2 separate regions of the Homo sapiens genome follow, and region 1 is linked to region 2. Evidence: fine-mapped expression QTL. Tissue or cell type: whole blood. Region 2 holds a variant in brackets; the other region holds the start of a gene. All regions are shown on one strand. Distances are between the middles of the regions.

Region 1 (8,106 bases), 74 kb after region 2:
TTTTAAATATTCAATCAAAAATCGAGAACCTTGCTCTTGCACCCTATAGTCAACTGCTTTGTACTCACTTTGTTTCCTAAGTGAGTGATCTTCAGAATTCCATCTTGCCACACTTTTGACTTCTTCATCTTTTGATGAGTATATAGAACCTTATTTCCAAAAATACAAAAGAAATGGTTTCCATTTATATATATTTAATGTTATGTATTTTATATATCCTTCCTACATACAAAATATATTTAAGGCACCTTTCATCAAAAAAAGGCACATACACCCATATCAATTTTTTAAATTTTAAAAACAAAAGCACAGATAGCATGACAATAACATTAAATATTAATTAAATGAAATAAATAAGGGAAGGAAGGGAGAGAGAGAAGGAGAGGGAGGGAATAGGGGAGGAAATGGCAGGAGAAGGAAGAAAGGAGAGGAGAAATCCAAGGAAGAAACAAAAAAGATAAATGAGCATTGAAAGTAATTTGAGCTCCCTAGTCATCAATTGGAAGGGAAAAAAATTACTGGATTACACAGTACTAATAATCTGTGCAGTTCTCAAAGTTTGGTCCAGAGACTCCTGGAGGTCTCCAAGACCTTTACAGGTATCTGTGAGGTCAAAACTATTTTCATGATGCTGTCTTTTCATCCTCACTCCTTCAGGGGTGCAGAATGAAGTTTCCCAGGATTATGTATATGCAATATTGTAAGATTCAATTGCAATCTGAATGTAGAAGAAACAAATATGAGAATCCAGTTGTCTTCCATTAAGCCAAATCATAAATACTTTTTACATTTCTGCTTTAACTTCTAATATGAAAAACATCAATAGACGTAAGACCCTATATACACAAGTTATTTGGGGTCAATAATTTTCTAAGTGTTAAAGAGTCCCGAGACCAAATAGTGTGAGAACTGCTGATCTATACAGAAGACGGATGCCAGTTCTTCAAGAGAAAGAAATTGTTTCCCGGTCTCACACTTTCAAAGATTATGTTACAAAGGACTTTGTCTAATACTTGATCTTAGCCAAAAGGCTGAAAAGTGATGATTTTGTGTAACAAATATGAATAGTAGGTAACAGATAGGGTTACCAGATAAAATACTGTGCAATATTTGGGATCCTAATGCTAAAAAAGGTATGCATTGTTTATTTGAAATTCAAATTTAACTGAGTAGCCTGTTTTTTGTTTTGTTTTTGCTAAATCTGGCAACACAGCAAGATGTTTGTGAAACGCCTTTAAAAGAAAGAGACAGAGGAAGGGAATTTCACCAAACTGTGAAAAATGGTAAAACTTACAATAAATTCTTGGCTTTCCATTATTTCTTCTGAAGTTATAAACCAGCTGGGTCCAGAAAATAGGAAATATTCAACTATTTATACCACCTAAAATTAAAAATGACATAAAATTTCAACCCTGATTTTTAAAAAATATCAAATATAATTTTTCTCAATAAACTCCCAACCACAGACATGAATCAAGGAGTTCCAAGATTACCTAACTACCAAGGGAAACAGAGGTGTAATTATCTATCACTGAGGACACAGTAAAAGTGATACCATGCTGTGAAACAAGCATTTTTTCATAAGTAAAGAAAAAACTAAGTAAAATACATAAATTAACTTGTAGTCTGCATTTTTCCAGATGCATAATATGTATCAGAAAACACGAATTTGTCCTCCACATGTTTGGTTCCCTATAGCGCAAATTCAATTTTTAAAGTTTTCTGAATTGCTACGGTTACCACAAGATGGCCCCCTTGTGTTTTAAATTTTTCCTTTCACTTCTTAGCATCAATATACCACAGTATCTAGGACCAATTACATAGTACCTCTACAAGGAAAAATCTTTCCAACACTGTTGCAACAGTTACTGTAGTTGTTATGCTATTGGATAAAACTGTTTTTGTGGGCAAATTTGGAAATCTAAAATCACTGATGGTGATCCCTGAAGAAGTAAACAGAAATGCCAAAGAAACATACTTTCTTTTTTTTCCCCTAAGGTGGTTCTCAAGATGTGACCCCTGGACCAACAGTATCATCTGGGAACTAGTAAGAAATGACCTATTAAGTCAGAAAGTCTGGGGTTGGGGGCCCAGCAGTCTGTGTTTTAAGAAGCCCTCCAAGTGATGCTGATGGACACTCAAGTTTGAGAATACAGATCTAAAAGACCTAGAAGGATTCAATAAAGCTGTAATTGTGATTTCAGTTCCTCTTTTAGACATATAAAATATGCCACTTACATATTATTTATAAGTTACATATATTTATTCAGTACTTACTATTGTGCCAGATATTATGCTAAAGTATTTAAATGGAAACTCTATCCTCCATCTGAAGGAATTTCAGTATGGCGGGGTGATAAACAGTAATTTTAATAAAATAAGGCAGGAATAAGCACAGCAGGGGCACCCAGCTTGGTGTGGATCATCAAACAAGGCTTCTTCAAGGAAGTAAAGTCTAAGCTGTAAGCTGAAATAACCCTTAGTCAAGGGAAGGCCAGTGAAGGTCTTCCCAAACAAGAATTGCAGGCCTGTGATCCCAGCACTTTGGGAGGCCGAGACAGGTGGATCACCTGAGGTCAGGAGTTCGAGACCAGCCTGGCCAACATGGTGAAACCCCTGTCTCTACTAAAAATACAAAAATTAGCCAGGTGTGGTGGTGCGTGCCTATAATCCCAGCTACTTGGGAGGCTGAGGCAGGAGAATCACTTGAACCCAGGAGGCAGAGGCTGCAGTGAGCCGAGATCACGCCACTGCACTCCAGCCTGGGCGACAAGAGCAAAACTGTCTCAAAAAAAAAAAATAAAAGGGCGAGGCGGGGGCGGTGAAGTGCAAGAAAGTGACTGGCATCTTCCCTTGACTAATCAAGGTGATCTGGAGAAAGAATAGGTAAGGGGTATGCAAATGAGATATGCATACTTGCTTCGTGACACAGGTCACAGGACAGAAACCAAACCTACAGAAGGACTGCCTTTCAGAAATATAACTCCTGGCCGGGTGTGGTGACTCACGCCTGTAATCCCAGCACTCTGGGAGGCCATGGCGGGTGGATCATGAGGTCAGGCGCTCGAGACCAGCCTGACCAACATGGTGAAACCCCGTCTCTACTAAAAATACAAAAATTAGCTGGGCATGGTGGCACAGGCCTGTAGTCCCAGCTACTCAGGAGGCTGAGGCAGGAGAATTGCTTGAACCCGGGAGGCGGAGGTTGCAGTGAGCAGAGATCACGCCACTGCACTCCAGCCTGGGCGACAGAGCGAGACTCCATCTCAAAAAAAAAAAAAAAAAAGAAATACAACTTCCACATCCTATCTCCCTCCCCTCCGGCGTACATAAATTGCTGATGCCTAAGAATGCCAAGAAGATAAAAGAGAGATCGAGAAAAACACTCCTGGGCTAGATATGCTGTATACATAGATGAGAATACATGGTACAGACACAGTGCTGGGCATGTGGCAATTATTAATATCAGATCTGTTTAATAGCTACCATTTATTCAGTGCTACCATATGCTAGAAACTGTTAAATGCTTTATTTGGAGGTTTTGTTTCTGTTGGCTTTTTAACTTTTCTTTTTCTTTTACAGAGACAGGGTCTCACTCTGTCACCTAGGCTGGAGTGCAGTGTTGCAATCATAGCTCGCTGTGGCCTCAAACTCCTGGGCTCAAGCAATCCTTCCAGCCTCCCAAAGTGCTATATTATAAACATTATATACATTATATTGTTAATTATATACATTATAATTATTATGTAATTATATAATATATAACTATATTACTGTATTATGTAATATACAATTATATGATTATCGTGTGTAATTATATATATTTATTGATTACATACTATGTATCAGGCAGGAATTGGACGAGATACTTTACATACAGTATTTATCAGTCTCATAATCCTGAAGAATAAGCATTATTACAATTTACAGATTAGGAACCCAGTATTTACTAGTTTAGGATAACTTATATGCTATTTCACAATTGCAAGATAAATTCTCCATTATTTTCCTAAATTGAGATATTACTTCTGGAATGTACAGTTTAAAAAGAACTAAGAAGACTGAAACTCTTAAAGGATGGTTAAATTCGATTATAGGAGAAAACCTAAAAAAAAAAAGCTAACTGGATCTTTTAAAATTTAGAAGAGCTCTAATACTTATTCATTGAAAGTCAACACCCTTTCTTATCTTAGTATTAATCAGAAAAAATTATTTTAGACAACAGCATCATATATATTTAAGTGAGATGCAAAGAGTTTTTTCCAAGTGTTCATCTGTCCACGTCTACCAGACAATTCACCTGTTGACCGACTTCTAATAGGTGAAAGATTAATCTCCAAATAAGTTTTTAAAGACCCCAGATGCTCTGTGATAATTATATACATACATACATACACACAGATATACGTACATACACACATATACATACATATACATTGTGCTACTATATGTACGGACGCAATATATATACATAAAACTCGGTGTTCTCAGTAAAGTATGAGCCATTATTCATTTAAATACTAGATATTTTTCCTTTTTTTTTAAACAAGGAGTATTTTTTGAACCTAAACCTGAACCTCTAAATAGTTCGGATAACAAAGTTTTGGAATCATGAACTCAACATTGTTAACAAACCATCCAGTCCAAATAAACAAAGGAAACCCACATCTCATTTGCCAAGATTCTAAGAACCATAATCCTGTCACCAAATGACAATGGAGACTTGATCCTTTCTCAGTCCTAAATACAAACAGCAAAGCCCTCTTTGGTCCTCATACCTACTCGAAATTGCAAAGCAAGGCCTGGGAAAAACGGTGAAGAGGCACCACTTACTACAAGCAGTCCGAGTAGCTGTGACTGCGACCACCCCAATCCTGGTTCCAAACAGCATCCTTCCCGGTTCTCTTCTTAAGGAGCAGAGTCTTTCGTCCCTTCGCCCCAAATCGCTCAAGTCATTCCTAGGAAATCCCGAGAAACACTTCACCTCACCTGTCAAATTGCACAAAATCCACTTTCGAATTTCTCCCGCGAAACAACGTGACGTCATTAACGCGGGACCTCACCAGATGAGGACCCAAAACTTGGCCCGCCCACCTCCGCCTAAGCCAAAAACCGCCGCTTTCAAATCGCCAATCAAATTCTTCCTTGGCTTCGAGTCTCTCAGCCGGCCGCGCTCTCCGATGCCCAGCCCTCCTGGAACCACCTCGCCTGTGACGTAGGTGGAGCGCGCACTGCCTCCGGGCCCGTCTTTCTCAATTGGGACCGGAAAACGTTGTCGCTCATCCTATGACGCGAAAGTAACCGAGACTATCAGGATCCGGAGACGGAAATGTCCGAAGGCCGCAGTACTTGACCCTGTATTTTGGGAGTCGAACGGAGTAAGTTACAAGCGGCCTATAGGGTCGCACAGCTTGGGCGAAGTCTAATTAACTCTCCGTCCTTTTTCTTGCGGTCCACTCTATCATCTATCGTCCTTCTTACCCCGCCCCCCCGTCCTGCACACCCATCAGTTCCTTGGCCTAGTTATCTATGCGCACGCGCAAAAGTCTTCGGCAGCACTTGTAGTTCCCGTTTTCAGACAGTAAGGGCGCATAGGGGCCCGGCGTGGGGAGGTTTGGGGCGCGCCCGGCCTATGACGGCGTCCTTGCGGAAGTACGGGTGCCGAGAGAAGCAGTAGTCAATAAAGAGAGTGCCGTATTTCGCAGATTGGAGCTGAGCTGTGGCTGCCAGAAGATAGCGAACGTGAGGATTTATATTCTAAAATTATCATCTTCTTTTGCAGGACTCTGCCATCGTCCTCAAAGAGTAAAAAATCCAGTTACGGAAGGGAACTAACACTTGCTAGATATGGTGTGCAGAGTGCGTTTGCAAAGAAACTTAAGAGAAAACAAATGATAGGACACAGGGTGGTGGAAGATCTCAAAGAGTAAGATGCCATTTAACCTGGGCCTTGAAAATTTAATAAGGAAATTTAGACGAGAAGATTCAGACAAAGCAGAACACACAGGCCACTACGTGTTGAGGGACTTGAGTTGTAAGCAGTGACCAGAACAATGATTCTTAACCTGTTGTGGCACACTTCTTTTGAAAACTTAATTATATGGATTAGCTTCTCAGGAAAACGTGCATGTACCTATTAAAACATTTTGCGAGGCTGGGCACGGTGGCTCACGCCTGTAATCCCAGCACTTTGGGAGGCCGACGCGGGAGGATCACTTGAGGTCAGGAGTTCGAGACCAGCCTGGCCAATATGGCAAAATCTCGTCTCTACTAAAAACACAAAAATTAGCGGGGAGTGGTGGTGCACACCTGTAGTCCCAGCTACTCAAGAGGCTTGGTTGGGAGAATCGCTTGAACTCGGGAAGCAGAGATTACAGTGAGCCGGGATCGCGCCACTGCACTGCAGCCTGGGCCACTGAGAGAGGCTGCGTCTCCAAACAAACATTTTTCATATAATTTCCTCAGGAGAAATTACGAAATACTTTTAAATAGCAAACACACACAAATGACTTGGTGTCTTGTCTGACTCACTCTTCCAAGTTATCTATGTCTTTCGTGGTCTTTGAACTATTTTTCAACCCTGTAACTCGCTACAGCAACATGGAAATTAGGTTTGTCCAGTAAAGATGCAATTAATTATTGTCCTGAGCAGTATTTATTAATATTCATTTCAACGTTCCTGATTGCCTGTGTACCTGCTTTTTAAATTCTCCTTTGAACTGGTTTTTAGCACTTAACTGGTTCCCTTATTTACAGTCAAGCACCACATACCGACAGACCGCATGTATGACAGTGGTCCCATAAGATTATAGGTGAGTAATAGGCAATAGTACCTAGGTTTGTGTGAATACATCATAGAATAACTACATACTCAATGATGTACTTACTCACCTGACTGTGCATTTCTCAGAATGTGTCCTTGTCGTTAAGCAACCCATGACTGTGCTTAAATCTTTACCGTGTATTCATTTTATATTTGTACAAGAGTCTTGATTTTACCTTATCTTTAAAATGTATCATTTACAATTTAATGGAGCCCACTAGAATTCTTGTCCAGCCAAAGTTGCATGGACTTCAGATTAAGAATTCCTGAGTCAGAACATAGAGTCCGTGGTGATAAATTGCGGGAAATTCTACCAAAAGGTAGACAATGTGGGATCAAACATACCTGGGACAACTTACTTAGCTAGCTTTGGCCAAGTCACTTAAACCTTTTTGAGTTTTTGTGTTAAGATGGAAGAAACTGCTACCTAGTGGGATTGTGAGGATTTACAAAAGTGTATATAAAGTTACTGGTATTGTTACCCAATAACTTTTATTCTTCATTTAAAGCCAGTTAAATGTTACTTTTTTTTTTTTTTTTTTTGAGACGGAGTCTTGCCCTGCCGCCCAGGTTGGAGTGCAGTGGCACGATCTCGGCTCGCTGCAAGCTCCGCCTCCCGGATTCACACCTTTCTCCTGCCTCAGCCTCCCAAGTAGCTGAGACTACAGGCGCCTGCCACCATGCCCGGCTAATTTTTTTCTTTTCTTTTTTCTTTTTTTGTATTTTTAGTAGAGACGTGGTCTCACCTTGTTAGCCAGGATGGTCTCCATCTCCTGACCTCGTGATCCGCCCGCCTTGGCCTCCCAAAGTGCTGGGATTACAAGCGTGAGCCACCGCGCCTGGCCAAGTGTTACTTTTTTTTTTTAAAACAGTGTTTTCATAAACTGCATATTATGTTACGGGAAGGTGCTAAGGAATTTCTAATGTTGCAAGTTTTGACAGAAGCATCACAAAACCAGGTCTGTGTTTTAGATGGGTTATACATAGGCTCCTGTTGAGAATGGGTGACTTACAGAACAGTTTATAAACTATTGGCATATTCTAGTGACAGTTGTAGCAGTAGTTGTAGAAAACACTGGATGGAGATGAGAGCCATTTCAAAAGTCAAACTGATAGGATTTAACAAGAGATTGGATAGAATAATTGGATAGAATTATTGATAATTGGATAATTATCAATAATTTATAATTATAGATTATCAATTATAGAATTATAATTATCAATTATAGAATAATTGATAATTATAGCCTACGTTTGTGTTTGTTCGTTTTTGAGATGGAGAC
Region 2 (8,106 bases):
CTTTGTCCTGGAGGGAGACATTACTTCATCAGTCAAAGCTGCTTATTGCAAACAAACTGTGAGAAATGTGTTGGGTAAGAATGGTCAGGGACTTGCATCCTTAGCATCCCAGCAGGGATGCTCAGGGCCGCTGGCAGACTGCCTCCCCCAACAATACCTCTCTAGCCCTACATGTTCTTGGCTGAACTTGAATTTTTGCATGAGTATCACTGTGCCAAAATTTCCAGTTCTGGTTTTGATTTTATCCTACTTACAAGCTAATTAGCCCATTACTGTTTCATAGATGCTGGCTTCTGGGTCAGAGACAAAGGTCTTGCATTCTTGGCATAACCAGCAAGAGTACATGGACACTCAGGGCCCATAGTGGGTTGCCTCTCTCAACAATATCCCAAAACATTAGCTACTTAAATGCACTTGTCATGCCTACCCAAGAAGTACTCTGTCAACAGCCACATTAGTAGAAGAAGAAATCAGAAGTTTCCACGGCCTTGCATTTCCAATGGTGGGAGCTTCACTCTTTTCAAACAGCTGTACAAAGAACAAAATCACCACTGCCAGCAAGTAACTCTTTCCTGCTCCAAACACACCTAATTATTTTAAAAGAAGAAAAAAATAAAAAGCATAAAATAAATAAATTTCTTTTTTCTTTTCTTTTTCTTGAGACAGAGTCTCACTCACTCTGTCACCCAGGCTGGAGTGCAGTGACACAATCTCAGCTCACTGTAACCTCCACCTCCCAGGTTCAAGTGATTCTCCTGTCTCAGCCTCCCAAGTAGCTGGGATTACCGGCGTGCACCACCACACCTGGCTAATTTTTGTATTTTTAGTAGAGCCACCATATTGGCAGGCTGGTCTCAAACTCCTGAACTCAAGTGATCCACCTGCCTTGGCCTCCCAAAGTGCTGGAATTACAGGCGTGAGCCACTGTGCCTGGTCAAACATAAATTTCTATAGGTATAACAAATATTTCATCCATCTCTCCCTCCTCCATTTAATTAATTAATGTCTTCAAAATACATTGAGTGTTCACTATGTGCAAAGCACAGGGGATAAATAGATAACCAAAATACTTCCACTTTTAATGAGACCAGCGCCTACTTAAAATGATAAACAAGGAATAATTAGAAATAAGATGGTAAGTAATATTATCTTGGATCAGAGAAGGAAGAAAATCTATCTCTGTTTTGATGGAGGTGGGAGTACTTCCTAAAATTAAGAAGTAGAACTAAGACTTCCAGAATAAGATGTCCAGACTGCTTAGAGATAGGGCCATTCCAGGCAAAGCCATGACAAAGCATGTCGCTGTTAAAATAACTTTTCTATATAACCTCTACCAAATAGGCAAGAGATGAGGCTGATAAGGTAGGCACAGGGGTAAATCACAAAAGCTCTGTTTGCTATAGCTAAACAAAGTTTGAATTTTATCTTAAAGGCCAGCAGATGTCATCTAAAGATTTCAAGCAATGGTTGTTTTTTTTTGTTTTGTTTTGTTTTGAGACAGGGTCTGGCTCTGTTGCCCAGGCTGGAGTGCAGTGGCGCAATCGTGACTCACTGCAACCTCTGCCTCCCAGGCTCAAGCCATCCTCCCACCACAACCTCCAAAGTAGCTGGGACTACAGGTGCATGCCTCCATGTCCAGCTAATTTTTAAATTTTTTTGTAGAGACAGCATTTTGCCATGTTGCCCAGGCTGACCTTGAACTCCTGAGCTTAAGCGAGCTACCCTCCCTGACCTCCCAAAGTGCTGGGATTACAGGTGTGAGGCCAAGCAATGGGTTTGACTTAATCAGATTGTGTTTTTAAAAAACAACTTGAATGAAAATATGAAGTAAGGCAAAACTAGTGGTAGATCAATTAGAAAGTTGTGTGAGATAATTACAACAATAAATGTTAACTTTACTAAGCACCTCCCATGTGCCAAGCACTGTTCTAAGCCCTTTATGTATGTTAACTCATTTAATCCTCCAACCCTATGAGGTGAATGCTATTATGATCTCCATTTTGCAGAGTAGGAAATTAAAGATTAAGAGATATATAACCTGCCCAAAATCATACAGCTAACAAATGATACAGTCAGAACGTAAATTCAGGATTCTAACTCTAGACCCCACACTCTTACCCACTAGGCTATATGGAGGTATGATGAAGGCTTGGATTGAGGGGATACAAGTAAACTGGAGAAGAGACACTCAATATGAAAGATGGATAGAAGCTAGAAGGAACACATCTCAGTGACTAATCTGATGGCGGGAGATGAATAGTGAGAGAATATGAGGAGGATTAAGAGAGAGTCACTTAATCTTGAGAGAAAGAAAAATCTACGATCACTCTCAGATTTGATTTGGTCAACAGGGTGGATATGACATAATTCCTCAAAATAGGACAGAAAAGTAGGATTAGCTTTGGGGTGGAGGTCTATGAGAGAAAATGTGCTACAGAGGCAACAGAGTCCAGATAGAACTATTTACTGTAAGCAGGAGGAAGTAAATCGCCTTCACTGTGACAGAACCAAGCGGTAAGAATAGCTCCAAAATTAGGTAAATTGGAGAAGGAAGGCAGGATATTGAAAGCAGTTTCTGTTATGACCTCCATTTCCTCTTTTAGAGGCAAGATCAAGAGAAAGGACAAGAATGAGGTTATGAGAAGAATTAAGGTTTGTAATCACTGATATAAAGGATAGAAGAGTGAGCTGACTAGGAATAAATAAAAGGTTTTGCTGATCAAGTTAAGTTTACTATAGGAGAGCAACATGTAAACATCTAGATCAATCTGGATACTTTGACCATAAGTTTATAATGCTACTCATTCATCAGATATGCTAATAAGTCTCCCTTTTAGGGTAGTCAGTTCTGTTCTCATCTAACAGTTTACCAAAGTGGGTACAGGTTTAAAAAGTCTACTTAGAGTTATTCTTGAACCTCATTTGACTAGGAAATTATAAAGGAGCAGACTGAGTTACAAAAGCTTACAAATAGAAAACAATTACAATTATTTTCTTTCTTGCTTCTTACCATGTATGATTGTGATAGGGAAGGTATGAGTTTGCAGTTCCTTCACTTCTTCAATGCTTTCATGTGATGCCATCATTTGAGCTATTTGAATTAGAGCTGTAGCTTGATCCTTGTTTAACTTGTGTACCTGAATCAACTCACTAGCTAACTTCAATGTTGCTCCTAGGCTGAGTAGTTCAAATTTTGTACTGACATTTGTGAAGGCTGGTGGGATAAATTTTCTCTTACTGACTCTTTTGTTACTAACTATAGTTGGCGAAGACCTAATAAAAATGAAGCAAATAAACAATTTTAAAAAAAGGGGCATTTGAAAAAGATGAGTAGAATAATTCATAACTTAGCCATCACTTTGTAAGCATTACAGAGAACAGTTTTTTATGGAAATAAACAGTAAGTGGATATATACTGTAAATGGATACATACTCCAATATCGAGGAGGGTAGAAGAGAACTGACGTTTGTTGAATACTTACTAC[A/T]TGCTGACACTTTGTTGAGCATTTTACATATTACTTGATGAAATCTTCACAACAACACTAGGAAATAGTTAGTTAATTATCCCAAGTACAGATACAAGAATATTGAATTTTTTCCCCCAATACCACACCACAAATAAGTGGCGGACTGACTTTAAAACCCATGCTCTATTATACAAACCTAACTTAGATAATTAATCTAGCCCTCATTTCAGGTAAAACTACATCACATGAATTGGTCTTATTTCTATTTCCATGAAAATTCATTTCAAATTGGATAAATAACATAATGAAATCAAAGGATATTTATTTTTTTACCTAGGACTTCATTGTAGTGAGAAAAATAAAACATCACAGGTAGATAATAATATTCCAAATTGAAAACTGGATTTTCCTATCAATTTTAATGCATTTAATATAATATCACTTCCAATTTTTTAAAAAGGGACATGGTGCTTGAGAAATTCAAAATGAGATATGGCTATATCGAGAATAAAATCAGTAGCAATATACACACTGGATTCCAGCTGTAAAATGATTCCTTTAAATGTTAAATAATTTGTAATATAAAAATACAGATAATAAAAAATAAAATCAATACTGAAATGATCCTTAAATTATCTCTTGATGAAGTGAAAATGTACAGTAACATTTATTAGCTCAAACCTTAATAAACAGATGAAAAATAATGCATAATTCCTTTTCTCTTTTTTTTTTTTTTTTTTTTTGAGATAGAGTTTCACTTGTTGCCCAGGCTGGGGTGCAATGGCACCCGGCTCACCGCAACCTCCGCCTCCCAGGTTCAAGCAATTCTCCTGCCTCAGCCTCCCGAATAGCTGTGATTACAGGCATGCGCCAGTATGCCCAGCTAATTTTGTATTTTTAGTAGAGACAGGGTTTCTCCATGTTGGTCAGGCTGGTCTCGAACTCCCGACCTCTGGTGATCTGCCCACCTCGGCCTCCCAAAGTGCTGGGATTACAGGCATGAGCCACTGCACCCAGCCCCTTTTCTCTTTTTAACCACTGACAGAGAATAATGTCATAGTCTGAAAAATAATTACAATTTTATTGGCAACATTTATATACTGTACTTTTATTGAATTTTCATATTTACTTCTGATTACCATTTTTTAATACCAATGACTCAAAGGTAAAAAATGACTTACGTTGTTAACAGGTACTGTGTTAGAGGTAGAGTAGCTGGATTAAAGTAGTCCTGAATGTTTTTCAAAGTAGTCAGTTCTGTGCTAGCATTACAAACCAATAACGCATGGACAACCACTGTACAGAGGATGCAGAAAATAAACATTTGATGTAAATAAAATGGACCATAAAAACTCTGTGTTAAATGCCCACATAACTCAGAGTTCAGCTACTGAATTAAGCACATGACATAAAACAAACCCTTAAACACACACAGAGATCCCAAACTTATATTCATTAAATTACTATGCTATCTGCTCATTCATTTTATAATGGGTATGCATAAACTGCATAATTTAAATCATATTTGGACTTCCATATATCAGCAAATGAACAAGAACACCTGTTTTGAGTTAGTACCTAGTAGCACAACTTCACAGCCAGCAGTTTCCTTTAATCAACATATCACTTGTGCCACAGAGTAGTATTTGTATAATTTTTAAACACTTTCTTGCATTTTTTCCTCAATTACTTCACAGAAATATATGGAAAACAGAAAATCAGAATAATCTAATTAGAAAATTAGAACAAAACAATCCCCCACACACCATTCTTCCTCACAGAAATATCTATATATTCAACTTCATACACATTTTCAGGAACTCACTGTACACAACAGTCGAAACTAGAGTTGGGTCCTTTTTGTTGGCTTTAATCAAACAGTGCATCTTATGTCTATCATTCTTTTTAAATATAAACTAAAATGAGCATAGTAATACTCACTGTTAGTGGGCCAATTAGAAGGGAAATAGCCTTTCAAAGGCAGTATTTCTATCTCATTGATAGATGATGGTCCAAAGAAAGCACTACATGCGATAAAAGTATCCAGCTCAAAGTCTAGGGTTTTTGAAACCACCCAAAGATCATCTGAAAAGACAAACATTTTTAAATATTACACAGACATATACAGTATGGTTTTATATTTTTAGAAATTATATATATTTGCATATGTGTGTACATATATCTATAGTACACATATACATACACAAGATGAGAAGTAAAGTTCTGGAAAGATAATTCATCAACTATCAACCTAAAGGTTGGGAGTGCTCTGAACAAAAGAACCAGCATCAGATTCTGCAATTAATACAGTACCACTTGAATCACACAGAAAAAGACTAAAGAGATGGCAGAATTACAGGGTGAGGAAGAAGGAGGGCAGAGACATCACATGGGAAGATGAGTTTGCTACAATGGAAATCCCTAGGTTTTGCATAAACCCACAGAAGGCCTAAGAAGGCAGGACATGGGCTAGCCCATAAGACTATTTTATTAGTCCGTTCAGGCTGCCATAACAAAATATCTTAAATGAGTAATTTATTAAGATGATTAATATCTTAAATGAGAAATGTATTTCTCATAGCAGTTCTGGAAGCTAAAAAGCCCAAGATCAAGGTGCCAGCACAGCACCAGTGAATAACCAGTGAAGGCTCATTCTCACTTTGCAGATGGTGCAAAGGGGCCAAGGCACTCCCTTTAACCTCTCTTATAAGGCCACTAATCCCATGCAGGATTAAGTTATGCAGCGCCCACATGACTTAATCATTGCCCAAAGGCCCCAGCTCTTAATACACTGGCAATCAAATTTCAAAGTATGTATTTGGCAGTGGGAACGGACGGCAGGGAACACATTTAGACCACAGTAACCACTTAACAAGCTACAAAAAAAAGTAATATTGGACTCAGTTCAGGCTGAGAAAACCAACTGCCAGGGCATCAGCAATTGGAATAGTGCCAAAGATCAGATCAGTAAGGATATTAGCAGTTCTAGCAAGCTGAGAAATAATCACAAAATAGTAATATACTATTCCATTTTCACTAACAAGCTTCTTTCAGGAAAGCTGACCTTCCTCCTCTCTTGTAACTACTTAGTAATTAGTATGTGAATCTTGTGATATTAAAAGTAGGCACAGAGAAGAACAGGGTTTTTAAAAATGAGAAACGTGTGGAAGCCCTGAAAGAGAGACTAAACTGGGCAGCGACTAAGATTTCAATACCCAAATGCATCTGAATTTTACTGGACAAAATCTATCAAATTGGATTCATCTTAAATTTTCTCTGCTGCAAATAGGAATGAGAGATTGAAGTGAAGAAAATAAACTGAAGAGAACCTTAAGACTGAATATATCTAGTAATTATTTAATCATATGCATTTCACAACGGTAACCTATAAGGAATGAAAATGAAAGGTATTAAAGTAAGACTTTCACTTTTAACTGTATATATTTCTTTATACCTTCATTTTTCATTGTATATATTTATGTATTACTTGTTTAATTTTTTTTCCCCCAAATGCTGGCTTGGAGATTTTTAATTTTTAAAAAATGATCACAAATGCTTAATTTCTAAAAATCCAACCACTTCATGAATGTCTTCTATGTGATATACATTTAAAAAATAAAAACATACATAATGTTCCTGCACAAAAGTTTCCTTCGAAGGTCACATTATAAATTCTTTTTACTGAATTGTGTTCGCAGCCGCCACCGCGCCGCCGTCGCTCTCCAACGCCAGCGCCGCCTGTCGCTGACCAAGCTCCAGCCGAAGGAGAAATGAGGTAAGTAAGGAGGTCTCTGTACCATGGCTCGTACAAGGCAGACTGCCCACAAATCAACCGGTGGTAAACCACCCAGGAAGCAACTGGCTACAAAAGCCGCTCGCAAGAGTGTGCCCTCTACTGGAGGGGTGAAGAAACCTCATCGTTACAGGCCTGGTACTGTGGCGCTCCGTGAAATTAGATGTTATCAGAAGTCCACTGAACTTCTGATTCGCTAACTTCCCTTCCAGCGTCTGGTGCGAGAAATTGCTCAGGACTTTAAAACAGATCTGCACTTCCAGAGCGCAGCTATCGGTGCTTTGCAGGAGGCAAGTGAGGCCTATCTGGTTGGCCTTTTTGAAGACACCAACCTGTGTGCTATCCATGCCAAACGTGTAACAATTATGCCAAAAGACATCCAGCTAGCATGCCACATACGTTGAGAATGTGCTTTAGAATCCACTATGATGGGAAACATTTCATTCTCAAAAAAAAAAAAAAAAAAATTCTCTTCTTCCTGTTATTGGTAGTTCTGAACGTTAGGTATTTTTTTTCCATGGGGTCAAAAAAAGAGCTTCTGCACAGCAAAAGAAACTACCATCAGAGTGAACAGGCAACCTACAAAATGGGAGAAAATTTTCACAACCTACTCATCTGACAAAGGGCTAATATCCAGAATCTACGATGAACTCCAACAAATTTATAAGAAAAAAACAAACAACCCCATCAAAAAGTGGGCGAAGGACATGAACAGATGCTTCTCAAAAGAAGACATTTATGCAGCCAAAAAACACATGAAAAAATGCTCACCATCACTGGCCATCAGAGAAATGCAAATCAAAACCACAATGAGATACCATCTCACACCAGTTAGAATGGCAGTCA

The links. PIP is the estimated chance that this variant, and not a neighbour inherited with it, causes the effect.
Region 1: ZGRF1 starts here. The variant in region 2 is fine-mapped to the expression of ZGRF1 in whole blood (TOPMed, PIP above 0.99).

The regions. Positions count from the first base shown.
Region 1 is chr4:112,631,862-112,639,967 of GRCh38, forward strand. ZGRF1 (zinc finger GRF-type containing 1) reads right to left here and starts at 5,048. Exons shown (of 28, transcript NM_018392.5): 1 at 4,990-5,048; 2 at 1,295-1,381; 3 at 69-149. The coding sequence starts at 1,315. LARP7 (La ribonucleoprotein 7, transcriptional regulator) reads left to right here and starts at 5,282. Exons shown (of 13, transcript NM_016648.4): 1 at 5,282-5,378. RefSeq lists enhancers at 4,845-5,064, 5,635-5,684, 5,725-5,834.
Region 2 is chr4:112,557,723-112,565,828 of GRCh38, forward strand. ZGRF1 (zinc finger GRF-type containing 1) reads right to left here. Exons shown (of 28, transcript NM_018392.5): 17 at 5,409-5,552; 18 at 4,649-4,763; 19 at 3,011-3,273; 20 at 428-587. It also overlaps the pseudogene H3P14. Among named protein-coding and RNA genes, the nearest start is that of NEUROG2, 46 kb to the left of the region's middle. The variant A/T (reference allele first, on the strand shown) is at 3,486.